3 linked regions of the Homo sapiens genome follow. The protein of the gene in region 1 purifies or fractionates together with the protein of each later gene. This does not show direct contact. Each region holds a gene or a part of one and is shown in the gene's direction. Other genes may lie near its edges. The genes, in order: NCAPH2, MIS18BP1 and ALDH3A2.

Evidence for each region.
Region 2: the proteins of NCAPH2 (region 1) and MIS18BP1 purify together in Homo sapiens (affinity purification with mass spectrometry; 2 studies listed by BioGRID and IntAct, with this or other methods). This does not show direct contact.
Region 3: the proteins of NCAPH2 (region 1) and ALDH3A2 purify together in Homo sapiens (affinity purification with mass spectrometry; 3 studies listed by BioGRID and IntAct, with this or other methods). This does not show direct contact.

Annotation. Positions count from the first base shown.
Region 1 is NC_000022.11:50,514,721-50,518,375, forward strand, and holds part of NCAPH2 (condensin-2 complex subunit H2), read left to right. Parts: intron 1-999; exon of another isoform or gene 1,000-1,027; coding exon of another isoform or gene 1,028-1,054; intron 1,055-1,726; coding exon 1,727-1,828; intron 1,829-2,706; coding exon 2,707-2,762; intron 2,763-2,856; coding exon 2,857-2,941; intron 2,942-3,020; coding exon 3,021-3,089; intron 3,090-3,252; coding exon 3,253-3,332; intron 3,333-3,407; exon of another isoform or gene 3,408-3,412; coding exon 3,413-3,558; intron 3,559-3,655. UniProt on the Homo sapiens protein: Regulatory subunit of the condensin-2 complex, a complex that seems to provide chromosomes with an additional level of organization and rigidity and in establishing mitotic chromosome architecture.
Region 2 is NC_000014.9:45,202,574-45,205,485, reverse strand, and holds the end of MIS18BP1 (mis18-binding protein 1), read left to right. Parts: intron 1-1,032; coding exon 1,033-1,087; intron 1,088-1,273; coding exon 1,274-1,377; 3' UTR 1,378-2,296; downstream 2,297-2,912. UniProt on the Homo sapiens protein: Required for recruitment of CENPA to centromeres and normal chromosome segregation during mitosis.
Region 3 is NC_000017.11:19,665,709-19,669,363, forward strand, and holds part of ALDH3A2 (aldehyde dehydrogenase family 3 member A2), read left to right. Parts: intron 1-3,655.

The DNA of each region.
Region 1 (3,655 bases):
ACTCCGTAGACGACCATGCTGCTGTTTCCTCTCCCTTCCTCCCAGATCTGACAAACACCCTTTATCCTTCAAGAGCTAATGGAAGTGACTCCCCTTGGGGATGGCTTCCCAGCCTCTGCCACTCCTTCGTGCTACCATGGTGCCTAAAATCTTGCCTCTCCCCAGCACGCGCCATGCTTTGGCCATGTTTAGATCATGCTCATTTTCCTGAAGAGACGTGTCCAGTCTCTGCTAGCTGCCTTCACGTTCCCTTCATCTGTCTGGTGAGCCTCTGCGTTTTTCAGGCTTAGCTTTGACATTATCTATGCATGTGTTCATCAAATATTTACTGGACACCAGTGTCAGGCACTGAACAGAAGGCTGGAATTACACTAATGCTGCTCACACAGTTCACTAAGGGACACGATCACACTAAGGGAGCGGCACAGAGGCCCCAGGAATGGAGGGGCTCTGAAAAAGAGTTTGCGTGGGGACAGCTGGGGGTCGGTGTTCCAGGCAGATGGAAATGCAAAATTGAAGAGCTGGAAAGACACCTAGGGGCTTCAAAGTGTCGTTTGTGGCTGGGCACGGTGGTGCATGCCTGTGATCCCAGTGCTTTGGGAGGCTGAGGCAGGAGGATCACTGGAGGCCAGGAGTTTGAGACCAACCTGGGCAACATAGAGAAACCCTGTCTCTACAAAAACATTTTTTTTTTGAGACGGAGTCTCGCTCTGTCGCCCAGGCTGGAGTGCAGTGGCGCGATCTCGGCTCACTGCAAGCTCCGCCTCCCAGGTTCATGCCATTCTCCTGCCTCAGCCTCCCGAGTAGCTGGGACTACAGGCGCCCGCCACCACGCCCAGCTAATTTTTTGTATTTTTAGTAGAGACGAGGTTTCACCGTGTTAGCCAGGATGGTCTCGATCTCCTGACCTCATGATCTGCCCGCCTCGGCCTCCCAAAGTGCTGGGATTACAGGTGTGAGCCACCGCACCCGGCCTTTTTTTTTTTTTTTTTTTTAAAGTGTCATTTGCTGAGAAGGAATACAGGAGATGAGCCAGCGTTGGGGAAGATGTTGGGTAAAGTATGGAAGTAAAGTGTTTGGGGACATTTGAATGTACTCTGTGGACAGCTATGAATGCAGCCCCAGAGCTAAGGAGAGAGAGCTGGTCGGGTTGGGTTTGGGGCTCATTGGCTTATGGTTGGCAGCTTGGGCATGGGATGAAGGAATGTGCATGGCGGGGGGTGGAGCGCCTGGCGCACTGACGTTTAAGGGGTGACAGAGGAGCTGGGGCTCCGGGAGGCTGAGGGGAGCAGAGGAAGGATGGCGACTCACCTGTAACTGTTTCCTGAGTTCTCTGCTCAGAGGATGGAGACCTCAGCATTTTATCTCTGCCTTTCCTACCCCTGAGGTTCCCTTTTCTTCTCTGTGTCGGGGATCTTCCTGCTGGAGTCTGTCAGCCTCTGGCGCCTTGTGGAGGGAGCCGCTGTGCTGCCCTGGTTGTTTGTAGACAGTGTGCCCTGGGGGCCTTCCACTTCCAAAACAGGTTTTTGTTATAGGAAGTAGGGGGAAACACAGAGACCTGTCTCTGCCCCGAAATACCAGGGACAACCGGTGAGCCCACAGCATAGCTAGAGCTGCCCGTCTCGGGAGGTGCTGGGCAGAGACCAAAGATGGGTGGGGCTGCCCTGGAAGAAGCGAGTGCAGACTGGGCCTTGGATTCCCCCTGTCTTTGTGTTGTTTCTTGCAGCTGGATCAGATCTGCATTTCTTTTGACGAAGGCAAGACCACAATGAACTTCATTGAGGCAGCGTTGTTGATCCAGGGCTCTGCCTGCGTCTACAGTAAGAAGGTGGGCCCTGCTTGACGCTGGTCTTGGCATTTTGGTGGCCAGTGGGACCACAGTCGGCTCTCCTTCTGGGGCAGGTGCAGTGGTCGTCCCGTCTGTGACCTACCTCCCTCTCTCCTCAGGTCTCAGCCAATTCCTCAGCACCTTCCAACACCAAGAACAATTTTTAATTTAAAATCGCACAGCCAGGCAGGGAGGGTCTTTTGTGCTGTTGGGCTCTGTTGTCTTGGGGGAATGACACCTGCTGTGTGCACTTGGACACAGCCCAGGGTGCCACCTGCACCCACCTTCCCCTTCCCCGTCCCCTACTTGTGGGTGCCTCATTGTCAGCACCTAGAAAGTCCACAACCACCACCCTCACGGTGGGGCCTCTGTTCTGTGGAGGAGAAGGACAGGAAGTGAGTGACGGGCTCTGTCCTGCAGGCCCCGTGGCGGCAGGAGCTGGGACAGGGCAGGGCCAGGACAGGAGGAGGGGCTGGGGTGATGCTGGCGGGAGCACACGGGCGGAGGAGCAGCAGGGCTGCAGGCCGTCGGCAGAGTGGGTGCCAAGCACGAGGGGCCTCACCACCAAGGACCGTGTGATGAGGCACACTGTGGGAACCACAGTGCTGTCAGGGTCACACGTTGAGAAGGCCACGCTCGCGGCTGCGTGGACCATAGAGGGCAGAGGAGAGATGTGGGTGGCCTCAGCTGGTAAAGTAATTCTCATGAGATTCCTGGTTTGATTTGAGAATTATTTTTGGAACCAAAATTGGTGGTTTCTTGTACTGGAGGTTTGGTGGTGGTGGCCAGGCCTCGTGGGGGCACCGATGGATAGCTGGGAAGGCCTTGGGGGTGGGCCCCTCCTTTCTGGGTCCTCACTGCCTGCATCTGGTCACCAGGTGGAATACCTCTACTCACTCGTCTACCAGGCCCTTGATTTCATCTCTGGAAAGAGGTGAGTTCTGCAGCCACTCACTGTGCTGCCCTGCATGTGGCCAGGGAGGCCCCTGCAGCTCCTGGGATGCCCACGGGATGTGCTTCTCTCTCAGGCGGGCCAAGCAGCTCTCTTCGGTGCAGGAGGACAGGGCCAATGGGGTTGCCAGCTCCGGGGTCCCCCAGGAGGCAGAGAATGAGGTGAGTTTCTTTGGCATGTGGTCCCCGCCCACTGTGTGTTTGCCTGGGCTCCGCCCCCACGAGCTCTGTCTCCCTCCAGTTCCTGTCGCTGGATGACTTCCCTGACTCCCGGACTAACGTGGATCTCAAGAATGATCAGACGCCCAGTGTGAGTCCTGGCCTGGCCCCTCTTAGGCTGGGGTGAGGTCAGCACTTTCCCTGGGGCTGTGTTGAGCTGATGGGGTGTGGGAAGGTGTCATTGCCCCATGTGGGTCCTGTTCTCCACTGGAGTGGAAGGGTGCCTGGCTCACCCACCCTTGGCCTCCATGCAGGAGGTCCTCATCATCCCCCTCCTGCCCATGGCCCTGGTGGCCCCTGATGAAATGGAGAAGAACAACAATCCCCTGTACAGGTAGGGATCTGAGCCCAGCGACGGGGAGGGAGGCCTGCCTGGGAAGGGTCTCTACAGCAGGCGTGTTTTTGCCAGCACAGCCGTCAGGGTGAGGTCCTGGCCAGCCGGAAGGATTTCAGGATGAACACGTGCGTTCCCCACCCCAGAGGGGCCTTCATGTTGGAGCCAGAGGGCATGTCCCCCATGGAACCAGCGGGCGTTTCCCCCATGCCAGGGACCCAGAAGGGTGAGGGCTTGGATGCGGGGGGCTTGGTGGGAAGGAAGGGAGGGTCTTCTGGTTGGACTCTTGTGGGGTGCCCTGTGCTTGCCACCTCTGGTCTTGG
Region 2 (2,912 bases), on another chromosome or scaffold:
TTTTCTGATTTTAATTGCAATAACTGATTATCATATATAAGTACTAGGATTCTGGAAAAAGTATTTCATCTCAAATTTCCTCTAAGTAGCTAATCTTCGAGAATGGTAACTTATGGGAACCCCCTTGATTCCCTTGCTTTATGACACTGAGCAAGTTACTTGAGCTTTCTAATACCATTTTATTCATGTGTGGTATGACAATGGGGATCATGATTATATTGATTTATGTTACCAAATGATTTTGAGGTCTAAATGATATAATGCAGTGTTTTACCTCATCTCAGAAAAAAATACATTTATATCACAGTCTGTGAGCATGAATTTGTATCTCAAAAATTTCTTAAAACAGTACTTACTCTAAGGGCTACTATATTTTCTGTTCTGTTACTTTTTATTTTTAAAAGATTTTTAAGGATTGCCAGCCATGGCCAATAGTTTGATAAGCATTGTAATGTGTGTGAGCATGTACTTCAAACTTGCCATTTACTTTACCATTTTAGCCAAGAATTTCAAGTACAGAGAATTAAAATTCTGCTGGTATAAAACATTGTACTGTTATAATAACAGACTGTAGGTAAAAGTAATACAGTAATTAGTATTCTGTATAGTAATTACTATACTGTAATAGTACAGTATAGTATTGTAATTATAATTACTATATATAATCATGATAAATTGTGTTTATATTTTAAGTTTACCAAACCAGTATATTCATTACTTAATTACTTAGCACATTTTGGCAACTTTTGGAGGCCCATAGACTATCCTTTAACTGCTATAGCATTAGTTTATAATAATTTCTTAGAGGAGTGTTTGCCAGCACTGGGAAACAACATTGAGTAAGTCATGGTTCTTGCCCTGGATAAACCCAAAAGAGAATTATGCATTTCACAGATAATTATAATGTGATTAAATGTTGTTATAGGCATATGTTCAAAGTAATCTGGGGATAAGCATGCTTAATTTTGTCTAGATTTGAGGTAGACTTCACCAGGAGGTACCATTTAGCTATTAATAGTAACTCTTTTATAGGTTGAAACTGATTTCTCAACTCCAACACCAAGAAGGAAAACCCCATTTAACACAGGTAATACACTTACAGCTTTCTTTTGTGGCTCAGTTCTATTATAAGGTAGGTTCTTTATTTAAATGGTATTAAAATTAATTGCTCTCAAGTGGACAGACTTAGCATTTTATTCCTTATAGTTGTTTTCAGTTTTATTGAAAGTACTTTTAGAAATTTATTATCTTTTTATTAAACTTCTCTTTACAGACTTAGGAGAAAACTCTGGTATTGGAAAACTTTTCACTAATGCTGTGGAATCTTTAGATGAAGAAGAGAAAGATTATTATTTTTCGAACTCTGATTCTGCATAGTAAAATGAGAAAATATGATTCCTGGGATTTTTACCATAAAGCAGACAGTGTTTGTATTTTCAACTGGAGTACATGTATTTTCTTTGTAAAGTAGCTTCCTATGAAAATGTGGACTTTTTTGAAGGTTTCATATGTTTGTGTTCAAAGTAAAATATCCTCATTGCTGCAGCTTACTAAAAATGTAAAGAAAATTGTTTTTGCTCGTGTAGATATCTGTAAATTTGTTTTTGCATATTAAAATATATATAGATAATTTTTTAATAAGCATCCAAGTCTGTTTACTTTAAGAAAACCATTTCCCAAACAGATTTTTTTTTATTTCAAGAAAATTTTGCTACCATTTAAGTAAGAGAAGGTGAGAAGGATGACAGAGGTTGTATTGGTAGCTATTGAATTCATGAAAACTTTTAAGTTAGCATTTGTTAGCAGTTATTATCCAAGCCAGAGTAGGATTTGTTACCAGTTGTTATCCAAACCTAATGTTTAAATTACACATTGTTGAAATTAAATTACACATTGTTGACATGCTTCTCTCCTGATTGTTTTTATTTTAAACTTGTGATAGGCATATCTATGAAACCTTTGTAAATTTAGTTTATTGCTTTACCATTATTTTACTAGGTAAAATTAGAGAACAGATTTTGTTCTCTAATTTTTAAGCCTTATTTACATATGCAGAAACAGCTTAAATATTTTGACTAGATTAGACAAACAGTTAATAGATCCACCATTAGGAATCAATATATTATGTCATAATAAACATCCTTTTTCTTTCACTGAAATTTCTTTTAGAAATAAACTTATTTTTGCTTGTTATGTTTTGAAACTTGACATAGGATATTTTCCCTCTGGCTACACATTCACCTACCCTTGTTCTCTATTTAGATTATTCAAATAAAGTTAGTTTGCTTTTATAGTATTTGTTTCTTGTTTTTTGTTTGTTACTAATTACTGGATGATAGAAATAAAAACAAATCATGACTGGTCCTGTTTAAGTTTCCTCAAAAAAAAAAAAAATGATTAATAACATTTTCTTGTTTCTTAAGTGTTTTAGTCAGAGCAGGCATGGTGTCATGTATCTGTAGTCTCAACTACCTGGGAGGCTGAGGAAGGAGGATAGCTTGAGCCCAGGAGTTCAAGGCTGAACTGTGCTATGATCATGCCTGCAACTGGCCACTGCACCCTAGCCTGGGTAACAGAGACTCCTTTTAAAATAAATAAATAAATAAAATAAAATAGTAATAATCAGCAGTTATATAATTATAGGACTTACGGAAACACTGTAAAAAGAACAGTGCAATTGGACTAAGATAATTCTTTCTTTAAACTACCATGATTATTTCTGCCATAAAGACCCTTGGTGGATATAGAATGGATCAAAAGAAAGGGTTATTTTGGAGTGGCCAAAAAAAATGCCGTTGCAGAACTTGAGTTGCCAATATTTGATCTAATGCTATACTGCTTGAAGTTAATGGATAGTGTTTTAGGAGTTAAGAAAGTGGTTAAATCCCTTAACAAAAAGTAAAAAGGTAATT
Region 3 (3,655 bases), on another chromosome or scaffold:
GACTGACTCAGCTTTTTATTTCTCCTTTGGGACCTAGGCTAGGTGGGCTTTTCTACTCTCTACTAGAGCTATTACAAAATAGCCGATATGTAAACATTCTCATAACAAAAACCCAACCAGAAAAGCCACTGTCTTAAAGCCCTGTTCTATCCTCTCCCTTTGTAATACCGTCCTAAGTCAGTTGCTCCATGGGATGCGATGGCCCAGTTTGGCAGGACCATCTGTTCCTGGTTAAGGAAACCTTGTCCTATGACCAAGGAGCCTTGACCTATATAGCCACAGGTCCTTGTCTAGGAGGTAAACATATTGCCAGCACCCAGCACAGTGACTGACATGAGTGAGGGACAGGCGGGAAGAGGCCAATTGGTAGGTATTGCCAGATCCAAATTGGAAATGGTGGTGGCTTGTAGAGGGTGGTAGCAGGGGAGATAGTGGAAAGGGAAGGGGGTATTTTTGGGATCAAGCAGCAGGATTGGCTGATGGAGTGAATGTTGGAGGAGGGGGTGAATGAGAGAGGATGACTCCTGGGATTTTGGCTGGAGTAAGTAATAGTTTTGTAGCCCAAATGCTTAAAAGATTGGACTCTGTTGTCTCTGTTCCTCAGCTCACCACATAGGATCCTGGCATCCACTGTGCTAGTGCAGTAATCAACTCGGTAATTGTTCCATATGGTGTCTCCACTGCCCTCTAATTGCAAATCTAAGTGACTTGGGTTCAGTCCCTGTCCTACTTGACAAGATAGCCTGTGGCATCATTGACTATACCATCTTATTTAAAACAAAACAAGGCTGGGCGCAGTGGCTCATGCCTGTAATCCCAGCACTTTGGGAGGCCGAGGTGGGTGGATCACTTGAGGTCAGGAGTTCCAGACCAGCCTGGCCAACATGGTGAAACCCCATCTCTACTAAAAATACAAATGTTAGCTGGGTGTGGTGGTGCGTGCCTGTAGTCCCAGCTACCAGGGAGGCTGAGGCAGGAGAATTGCTTGAACCAGGGAGGTGGAGGTTGCAGTGAGCTGAGATTGCGCCACTGCACTCAAACCTGGCAAACAGAGCGAGACTCCGATCTCAAAATAAATAAATAAATAAATAAATAAATAAATAAATAAAAATAATAAAATAAAACAAGCAACCTATTATATACCCACAAAAATTAAAAATACAAAAAGAAGATGCAAAAGAAAAAAACAGGTTTACTCTCTTAGCAAATTTCAGGCATATAATACATTATTATAGTGGCCATGCTGTAAAAAAATAAAAATAAAAAATAAAAACAAGCCTTGACCCCCAAATGTAAAAAGAATACAGGCTTTTTAAGAAAACTTGGAAAAGATAGAAGAGCCCAAAGAATAAACATTTATATTACCCATAACCCCACTATGTAAAGATAACTGGTATATGTCTTGCACACATATGCACACACATATACACGGTCATCTGAATATTCTATTCAAAAAGGTATCATACTATATATTGTTCTGTACCCTGTATGTGACAGAATAGTGTGACACTTTTCCATGTCAATATTCTTGCATGTCATAATTTTAGTAGCTGCATACTTTTCCATCATATGAATGTGGCATATTTATGTAACCAATTCCCAGTATTAGATTTTTGTGATTTCAATTTTTTTGGTATTACGATTCTTATATAATGTATCTTTATGCAATCTCTGATTATTTCTTTAGGAAAAATGTCTACAAGTGTAATTACTCTGTTAAAAGGGCTTATACAATTTTCCAAATTGAAAAAAATGCTTTTTTCTTCTAATTCTCAAAGTAATATAGACACAGTGGCAAAAAGTCTAAACAGTTAAACTTTTTAATATTTTGGCATATAGTTTAGATTTTTCTTTTTTTTTTCTTTTTATCGAGACTGAGACTCCCTGTCACCTAAGCTGGAGTGCAGTGGTGTGATCTCAGCTCATTGCAACCTCCAACTCCTGGGTTCTAGCAATTCTCCTGGCTCAGCCTCCCAAGTAGCTGGAACTACAGGTGTGTGCCACCAGGCCCAGCTAATTTTTGTATTTTTAGTAGAGACACGGTTTTGCCATGTTAGCCAGCCTGGTCTCAAACTCCTGGGCTCAAGAGATCCACTTGCCTTGGCCTCCCAAAGTGCTGGGATTACAGGTGTGAGCCATCGCACCCAGCCTAGGTTTTTCTTTAGAAATGCTTCTCTTTAAGACTTTTGATAGATATTTCAAGTGTCTTTGCAGATTTCTGCCACTTTATATTCCCATGATCAGTATATGAGTGTTTACTTCCTTATATCCCCAATTCTGGATTATTCCATTATTAAATTTCTAGACAGAAAAGGGTCTCATTTCAATTTGTACTCCTTTGATTATTAGTGAGTTTGAATTTTTTTTACCACTCTCATGAATTTTCTATTTATGTCCTTTGATATTTTTGCTGTGTTCACATCTTCCTTATTATTGGTATATAAATAGCCTTTTTTATAAGTAAGAAAATCCTCAGTCCTATCTGTAATACATATCCCTTTCCAGATTTTAATTTTTCTTTTAATTTTATCTATGATTTGAAGCGTTTATTTATTTAGAGACAGAGTCTCACTCTGTCACCCAGGGTGGAGTGCAATGGCGCGACCTCGGTTCATTGCAACCTCTGACTCCTGGCTTCAAGCAATTCTCCTGCCCCAACCTCCCAAGTAGCTGGGATTACAGGCACCCGACACCACTCCTACCTAATTTTTGTAGTTTTAGTAGAGATGGGGTCTCACCATGTTGGCCAGGCTGGTCCTCAACTCCTGATCTCAGGTGATCCACCTGCCTTAGCCTCCCAAAGTGCTGGGATTACAGGCATGAGCCACCACATCTGGCCTAAGCCTGTGTGGCTTTTTGTTTTTTGGTTTCCGATTTGGAAAGTAGGCTTAGAAAAGCTTTCCCTATTTCATTATTATATAAATATCATCTGTAGGCTGGGTGCGGTTGCACACACCTGTAATCCCAGCACTTGGGGAGGCCAAGGCACCTGGCTAACATGGTGAAACCCCGTCTCTACTAAAAATACAAAAAATTAGCTGGGTGTGGCGGCACCACCTGTAATCCCAGCTACTTAGGAGGCTGAGGCAGTAGAATCACTTGAACCCTGGAGGCGGAGGTTGCAGTGAGCAGAGAGTGCACCACTGTACCTCCAGCTTGGGCAACAGAGCGAGACTCTGTCTCAAAAAAATAAGAATAAAATAAATAAATAATTAAATATTATCTGTAGTTTCCTTCCCTCCCTCCCTCCTTTTCTTCTTTTCTTTTCTTTTTTCTTTTCTTTTCTTTCCATTTAACCATGGAGTTGGCCAAGCATGGTGGCTCACACCTATAATCCCAGCACTTTGGGAGGCCGAGGCAGGTAGATCACCCGAGGTCAGAATCTTGAGACCAGCCTGGCCAACATGGTGAAAACTCATCTCCACAAAAAATACAAAAAAAAAAATTAGCTGGGCATTGTGGCATGCACATGTAGTCCCAGCTACTTGGGAGGCTGAGGCAGAAGAATCGCTTGAACCTGGGAGGCGGAGGCTGCAGTGAGCCAAGATCATGCCACTGCACTCCAGCCTGGGCAACAGAGCGAGACTCCATCTCAAAAAAACAAACAAACAAAAAAAACACCCTGGAGTTCACTTTAGAATGCCATACGCTGCAT